Homo sapiens: one gene and its partner. The protein of the gene in region 1 purifies or fractionates together with the protein of each later gene. This does not show direct contact. Each region holds a gene or a part of one and is shown on either strand. Other genes may lie near its edges. The genes, in order: MPDZ and KIF14.

The links.
Region 2: the proteins of MPDZ (region 1) and KIF14 purify together in Homo sapiens (affinity purification with mass spectrometry; 2 studies listed by BioGRID and IntAct, with this or other methods). This does not show direct contact.

The regions. Positions count from the first base shown.
Region 1 is NC_000009.12:13,105,182-13,108,995, reverse strand, and holds the end of MPDZ (multiple PDZ domain protein), read left to right. Parts: coding exon 1-60; intron 61-1,884; coding exon 1,885-2,031; 3' UTR 2,032-3,289; downstream 3,290-3,814. UniProt on the Homo sapiens protein: Member of the NMDAR signaling complex that may play a role in control of AMPAR potentiation and synaptic plasticity in excitatory synapses. Promotes clustering of HT2RC at the cell surface.
Region 2 is NC_000001.11:200,550,682-200,554,761, forward strand, and holds the end of KIF14 (kinesin-like protein KIF14), read right to left. Parts: intron 3,926-4,080; coding exon 3,787-3,925; intron 3,087-3,786; coding exon 2,707-3,086; 3' UTR 819-2,706; downstream 1-818. UniProt on the Homo sapiens protein: Microtubule motor protein that binds to microtubules with high affinity through each tubulin heterodimer and has an ATPase activity. Plays a role in many processes like cell division, cytokinesis and also in cell proliferation and apoptosis.

The DNA of each region.
Region 1 (3,814 bases):
GGAGGATATGGCAGCCCTCATGGAGACTTACCCATTTATGTTAAAACAGTGTTTGCAAAGGTAAGCTTGCAAATTTTAACCACCCTCTTTTCCCCTAAACATTCATTAATAGTGGTCAGCAGCTGGCTTATTAGTTTATGGCCTGAGGTAATGCCAAATGGTTAACAGTTGATCATTTCTTTTCAAAACTCCCTACAGGAACAGGTCATTAAATATTTTTGTCCAATTTGAGGTTTCATTATATTTAAAGGAAAATAGGCTCAAATTGAAACTCCATGGAAACTCAACAATATACATAAAAATATTAATGAACTTTGGTTAGTAAAGCCTATTTTTTTTTCTTTGAACACAAATTGCACATGATCGTCTTTTGAAAATGGGACATTTTAAATAAGTATGCTGTAGAGCACTGGTATTTCTGTTTGCATTTTTTTGTTGTGAAATATAAAATAGTTATAGAGAAGTACATAAAGTACACATGAAAATTAATAAGCATTTATTTTATAAATTTAATTTCATTGAATAAAACAAAAATAACTACTGAAAAAATGTAGGGAGTATCCAGCAGCCCTATCATCTATAATAAGTCAGCGATTTGCAATCAAGGGATTCAATTAAAAAGACTGTATAGTTATAATTATATAATACCTATTCTAGCTTAAGAAGGTTTAGAATAAGAATAAAGATATTGCAGTACTGGTAAAGCTATTAAAATAATTTAAACCCATGTAATTATTGTTAATATGTTAAGTCGTTTTTCAGGGGCTACAAAATTCGACAAGATTTTCTGCAGGGAAAAATTTAGAATCTCAAAATTTTACAGTGTCAAAAGAAACAAAACTTAGTCAAACGTGTTTAAAAATTTGATACAGGGCCTTTGGATTAGTGGTATAGTTCTTTATGGATATTTTATTTTATTATTTTGGAAAAGATCTTTTTTTTAGCCAATTTAAAGTGTTGTACCTACAACAAGCTAGCTATAGGCTTAATTTATAAGATTTTTAAAAAAGCTATCGGTATGTCCAAAAATACAAACAGCATTTGCTAGTGAATAGAAGAGTCATACAGTCCTTTTCCTCAGCCTAGGAACAATTTATTTAAGGCATGCTAGTTAGAACATATTTTAAGAATTTCATCATTATGGATTCCTCATTAACTTTTCCATATTTTTAATTTTATATTTAATTGCATAATTGTCTTCTATAAGCGTGCTTTAAGATGGGGTTCTTTTTCTAACACCAATGTCTGTATTTAATCTTAATCATTTAGGGTCCATAAGGAATATGAAGAATCTCTCTACCCTTGGGAAGTAAGAACTAAGACAGCTTGAATAGCTTTTTCAAAACCACAAAAAGAAATAGCAGTGGGTTTTAAATTTAGAACTTATGCCTTATCCTGCCATAGGGAATGTTCAGGTGGCTTTGTGCTTTTGCAGACCTTTGGATTTTGTCATCCCCCAAGCCCTTGTCCTGTAAAACTGTTTTTGTTCCTACCTAATCCTTTACCTTCTTTCTGTAGGTCTTATTTACAGGATAGAAAATCCTGGATTCTATTGAATCATTCCTACTAGGCAAATTCCCAAATATTCTTTATTAATTTGTGTTCCCACCAACTGCTGTGCTGAACAGCCAAAAACCCATCCAACTGATCTATCGACTGCTAAATTCTCTCTCAAATTGGTATCTCAATGCTAAAACCATTTAGGAGAAAGACCTTCTTTGTCTATGTTCATCATTGCTTAATGGCTTAGAGCACCCATGGAGCACTGGGAGCAGTGTGTGTGTACAAGCAGAGCAATTTACATTCCTGTTGAGATCTTTTTCTGTTGTGAGTTGCAAGGCAGCATTTTTTGAGAAATAAACAAGTCTACTTTATAATTTGCAGGGAGCAGCCTCTGAAGACGGACGTCTGAAAAGGGGCGATCAGATCATTGCTGTCAATGGGCAGAGTCTAGAAGGAGTCACCCATGAAGAAGCTGTTGCCATCCTTAAACGGACAAAAGGCACTGTCACTTTGATGGTTCTCTCTTGAATTGGCTGCCAGAATTGAACCAACCCAACCCCTAGCTCACCTCCTACTGTAAAGAGAATGCACTGGTCCTGACAATTTTTATGCTGTGTTCAGCCGGGTCTTCAAAACTGTAGGGGGGAAATAACACTTAAGTTTCTTTTTCTCATCTAGAAATGCTTTCCTTACTGACAACCTAACATCATTTTTCTTTTCTTCTTGCATTTTGTGAACTTAAAGAGAAGGAATATTTGTGTAGGTGAATCTCGTTTTTATTTGTGGAGATATCTAATGTTTTGTAGTCACATGGGCAAGAATTATTACATGCTAAGCTGGTTAGTATAAAGAAAGATAATTCTAAAGCTAACCAAAGAAAATGGCTTCAGTAAATTAGGATGAAAAATGAAAATATAAAATAAAGAAGAAAATCTCGGGGAGTTTAAAAAAAATGCCTCAATTTGGCAATCTACCTCCTCTCCCCACCCCAAACTAAAAAAAGAAAAAAAGGTTTTCTAATGAAAATCTTTAAAAATACTGTCAGTATTTTAAAATTTTCAACAGTATTATAAAAACATTGCATCTCCCCACCTCTAATATGCATATATATTTTTCCTGCTAAAATTGGTTTCTACAATTGAGTAAATGGCAAATACATGAAGCAATGTCCCTAAATTTTATAAAGAAATTATATTTAATGCACATTTCAATTTTCATTCTTATTTTTGACCTTTTGTAAAATATTTTCATGTTGCTATAAGTAAATGATGATGCCACCCCATGTTGACTATGGTTTTTCTAGAAAGCAACTATGCTGCTAACCATAGAGGAACATAGAAGGGTTCCAGAATCTTTAGTGCTGGTTTTAACAACCGATGCAACATTAAAAATGTGTTAGTGTGCTGTGCAATTGGTTTTCAATTCATATTAATCTTAATGACAGAGAACAATGTGTTACTAATTATTTTGGTTGTATGCCATTAGTAAATTGATAGAAAAATTAAGGGGATTAACATAACTTCATTTCATTGACTTATATTAACATCTTATAATACAATAGTTTAAGACTAAGGGAAACAGATGGAGCTGTTTATTGAGACAACTGGTGAGGAATTATCATGTGTTCATTCCCATTTTAGAGCGTGAAACTCCTACATTAGAATATATAAAGTCACTTTAAATATCTATATTTGTAACAGAAGTAGTGTACAGATATTTTATTACAGCATTTTTGTGTAAATGCAGAATTAAAGTGAATAAATAAGAATTTTCAGTGGTGCACAAATAAGCAGCAAGCATTTTTTTTGTTCTTTTTACTGTGGAAAAGCTTTGTTATATACTGTTCAAGATTTACAACTTAAAATTGGTTTTTATCATGTCTAACTGCACATATGGTGTCCATAGTTACAGCTAAAGGAACTTTGGACAACATCATTATGGAAAGCTTAATATTTTTTACCTCCACAATTTTTTCTAGCACTAAAGATTCATAGACTCCTCATAGATGAGAGGAAGATGACATTGTAGAAAGAGAAGTATCCTGCCTGTATATGTTTTTCTCAAATGCTGTTAATGCAGTAATATTGTAAGTTGCTCTTTTGTGTGGTCAAGAACTATTCAAGTGTATTCAGATGGACAAAATCATAATCAAAATTATTTGTATTAATAAACATGACAAGTCCAACTTGAACACTGAGCAAGGAATGAGGGGAACTCTGTTCTACTAGTTTTGTACCAAATTAGCTAACAAACGTGCATTTCCCTCTCATTCATCTTATCTGTAAAATGATAGATTATTTTATCACAAAGG
Region 2 (4,080 bases), on another chromosome or scaffold:
TATTTAGGGAAAACCTTGAAATGCTTATTGGCACATAGTTAGGCTCTGTAAACTCAAGTATGCTAGTTAGCTAACTAGACAAAACAGCCTTTTGCTAAAACTTTCAGATGGACTGACTCCATGGAGGACACATAGCACATTATACCTTAAGAGCAGTAAGATAATGTTTAGTTATCTTTATTGTCCATTTATTATCATGGAACAAAATGACGGCAGATATATTTTCAGGTATGCCATAAAGGACTGCAATACAATTTGGCACATTGGCAGAATGTTATAAATGGCATATGCCTGCACCAAGTGTGATCTTATATACATAACAAGGGTTTTGTAGCTGGTAATGAAAAGGACAGAAAATAAATTCACTAACAGTCTACTACTTGCCAGCAGTTATTCCCACATTTTTCTCACTAAGTGCTCATAGATAGATAGTCCATGAGGTGGGTATTACTTTTCTTTCTGCAGATGAAGGAATGGGAGTGAAGACAGTAACATGTCTAAGGTCATGTAGTTACTAAGCAGTCCAGCTGGGATTCACACTCCAAACGTGTGAAAAATATGTCAAACTCCAAAGCTCATGCTCTTTACACATACCACATGGTGATAAATCTATTCCAGGCATAATCAACTAAAGAGAGGCAGAACAATGTTAAAAAAAAATAGTTGTTATGGCAATATTAATATTTGTTTAGTGTTTCCTAATTATTAACTTGATTTGCAACACTAGCCTAGCTATTATCAAGGCAGAGCTATTCTGAATGAAGAGTAAAATAAACAAAGAAAATCAGTAAAATAAAAAAGCATAGACCACGAAGCAATTCTAATGCTGAAAAGATTTATTAAAGGCATTCTCTTTATAACATTTCTTGTCAGTGCACATAATTCCAATAGCAAATATTTTTTCACCATTCATTCAAATACAGTATCACAATGTGTTTAGTATAAATATGTATACAAAATTTTATAAAGACACTAAAAAGTTTCTGACCAATTAAGTCATGAGTTTACAAAGCACAAACTGAAGATTAAATACTGAATATTAAGATGAAAACTACTATACAGGTACTTTAGGAAGTTCTTCAAAGAAGTGCACCTCCCGGGAAATCCTCATATGTACATCTACACTCCAGCAAACTGCACAGGCAAAGTGCTACTTGCCAGATTATTGACTAATAAAAACACATATAGAGCTTCAGAAAGAATACAAGGTCAAATGCCAAAAATAAAAAAAGAAATGAAAGCAAATGTGCTACATTGTACCATTTTAAAGAGCTTGAAAACACCACACAAGGTTCACTAATACTGTTCTGACTGCAATGACTGTATTTACTTACAATCTCTTCCTAACAAGGAAACTATCAGATTTATTCATGGTACGAATGGCCAATTTCAACTAGTTATGCCAAATGTACAAGTAGTATCTGTAAATTCGAAAAGGGCAAATGAAAGGATCAGGTTATTTAAATGAATTCTTCTTTTTTTTTCTTCTTTTTTTTTAAATGAATTATTCTTTAGGAACTGCTCAATATCACCCAAGCATAGTTACAAAGTATCTCTTCAAATTATACATACTCTTGAGGTCAAAAACGTCAAACTATTTCCGTAATGTAAGATCCCACAAGTAGAATATTATCTTTATTACTTGATCATAAATAAAGGTTTTTTTTTAAAGCTGTGGAAAATAAGGGTCTTTAATCTTCATCAAATCATATACAAATTATTTCATTATACCTTTAACAAAACAAGCATTATCAAGAGAAGGTCCAGCCTCTGATCTCCTAATCTCATCCAACAGTTTAGTATAATTCTGGCAACATTTTATTAGTTTTAAATAATATTCATACAGCCCCCATTATGAAACACAGATAACAGGGTAAACTACTGTGCCAGCAAGCCATATTATTAATATATAATTATACTATATTTAGGTAGCTACTTATAATTTGGAAAGAAACAGGAAGCTACACCCTTGAACATACTATTCAAAATGGCAACCAGTTAACCCTTTGAGAAAAGAATTTTTGATTAACAATGCAAGTTAAGTTGTCTTAGTTAAACTTGTACAGGCCATTTCACCATAAACATCCCAGCTGTCTGAGGAGAGAGAAGGCATAGGCACAAAGGTAACTGATTGTTCAGGTTTCCACTCATGAGAAAATAACCCTTTATAAACGACTAATGAACCAACTACAGACAGTATACCAATGTTAAACACTTTAAAGATAAAAATATATTTTATTTATTTATTTATTTATTTATTTATTTATTTATTTATTTATTTTGACTAAGTCTCGTTCTGTTGCTCAGACTGGAGTAAAGTGGCATGATCTTGGCTCACTGCAACCTCTGCCTCTCAGGTTCAAGCGATCCTCCTGCCTCAGCCCCCCTAGTAGCTGGGATTACAGGCACGCGCCACCATGCCCAGCAAATTTTTGTATTTTTAGTAGAGACGGGGTTTCGCCATGTTGGCCAGGCCGGTCTCAAACTCCTGACCTTGTGATCTGCCCGCCTCCCAAAGTGCTGGGATTACAGGCGTGAGCCACTGTGTCTGGCCTTTGATAAATAGATATTTTAAAGATAAAAAGACATGGACTTTTTTGAAATATCTGTGCTGATTTCTCTTAAACTCTCCTGCATAAAGAAAATTACCGAGCAAGTGTTCTTTTTCTTTCATGGGTGGTCATAAAAGTGCCTACACATCAGTATTCACACCCACTGAATCCTACTGGGTGTGCATTCCTCTGAGCTCACTGCTGGGGATGAGCCATGGAGCTCATAGACACGCTTTGGTACACCTTTATTCTTACTGCCGTCAATCCCGCTTGATTTAGATTGTTGGTGTTCTTCTTTGGTATTTTGATTATAAGTTTCCCAGGGTTTCAACAAATCAGGGCTTTCTTCAGATTCAAAACAAAAGAGGAGAGACTTAGCTAGAGATTCTAGTTCCTGGTGGACAATGTGAGTTACTCTACTCTCATAGCTGCCAACAGAAGTAGAAGGCACACTGAAGTCACTGTAAAAATCACTGGCCAAGTTGCGAATACTTTCAACACAAGTCTGGAGAAGATTTATATCACTATGGCATCCTATATGCAAGAGAGGAGGGAAAAGTTAATTAGCCTTTTCAGTTTTCATCAGGTATTTATGACTTTTATAGACTCTAGATATCTTTTAAGTCAAAGTGACCCTATCAAAACAATTCCAAACTACTTAAGATTAGTCAACTAAAGTGTTTATTTGCTAGATGAGCACTTGGTTTTTCAGGATCTAATTATTTAGGTAGAAGTACTGATACATACATTAAGTGGGAATTTAATTATAAATACAAGTTCCTATATGGGTAACTAATATCAGTGAAGTAGCATTGGGTAGGCTTCAGTTAATGACTAAAATAATGAAAAGGTTAGAAATAAAAAGGAAAGATGTCAGCCGGGGACTGTGGCTCATGCCTGTAATCCCAGCACTTTGGGAGGCCAAGGTGGGTGAATTGTTTGAGGTCAGGAGTTCGAGACCAGCCTGGCCAACATGGTGAAACCCCATCTCTACTAAAAATACAAAAATTATCCAGGCATGGTGGCATATGCCTGTAATCCCAGCTACTTGGGAGGCTGAGGCAGGAGAATCGCTTGAACCCAGGAGTCGGAGGTTGCAGTGAGCTGAAATCGAGCCACTGCACTCCAGCCTGAGTGACAGAGCGAGACTCCATCTCAAAAAAAAAAAGGAAAGATGTCTAAGGTTCCTTAAAATATAAAATTCTGATTATAAACTCCATTTGGAGAATCATACCTTTCAGTGCAGAAATAATAATTTCAATAGCTTTCTCTAAGCAATGTTTTAACTTTAAGAATTCTGGAGCACGATTAACCATCCTCTTGAAATCTTGGTATTCAAAGTTTTCTTCTTGTACTTGCCTTCTGAAACTTTTCTGTATAAATAAAGTTAATATTTAAAATAATACATTAACAGGCTCAATGGCAGTAAGGCTCAGTCAATATGATTTTAATTGCCAGAATCTTCTCTTTAAGAAAGAGAGTTTAATTTCCTCACCAGTGCTTAACTCTATTTCTATAAGCAAGACCA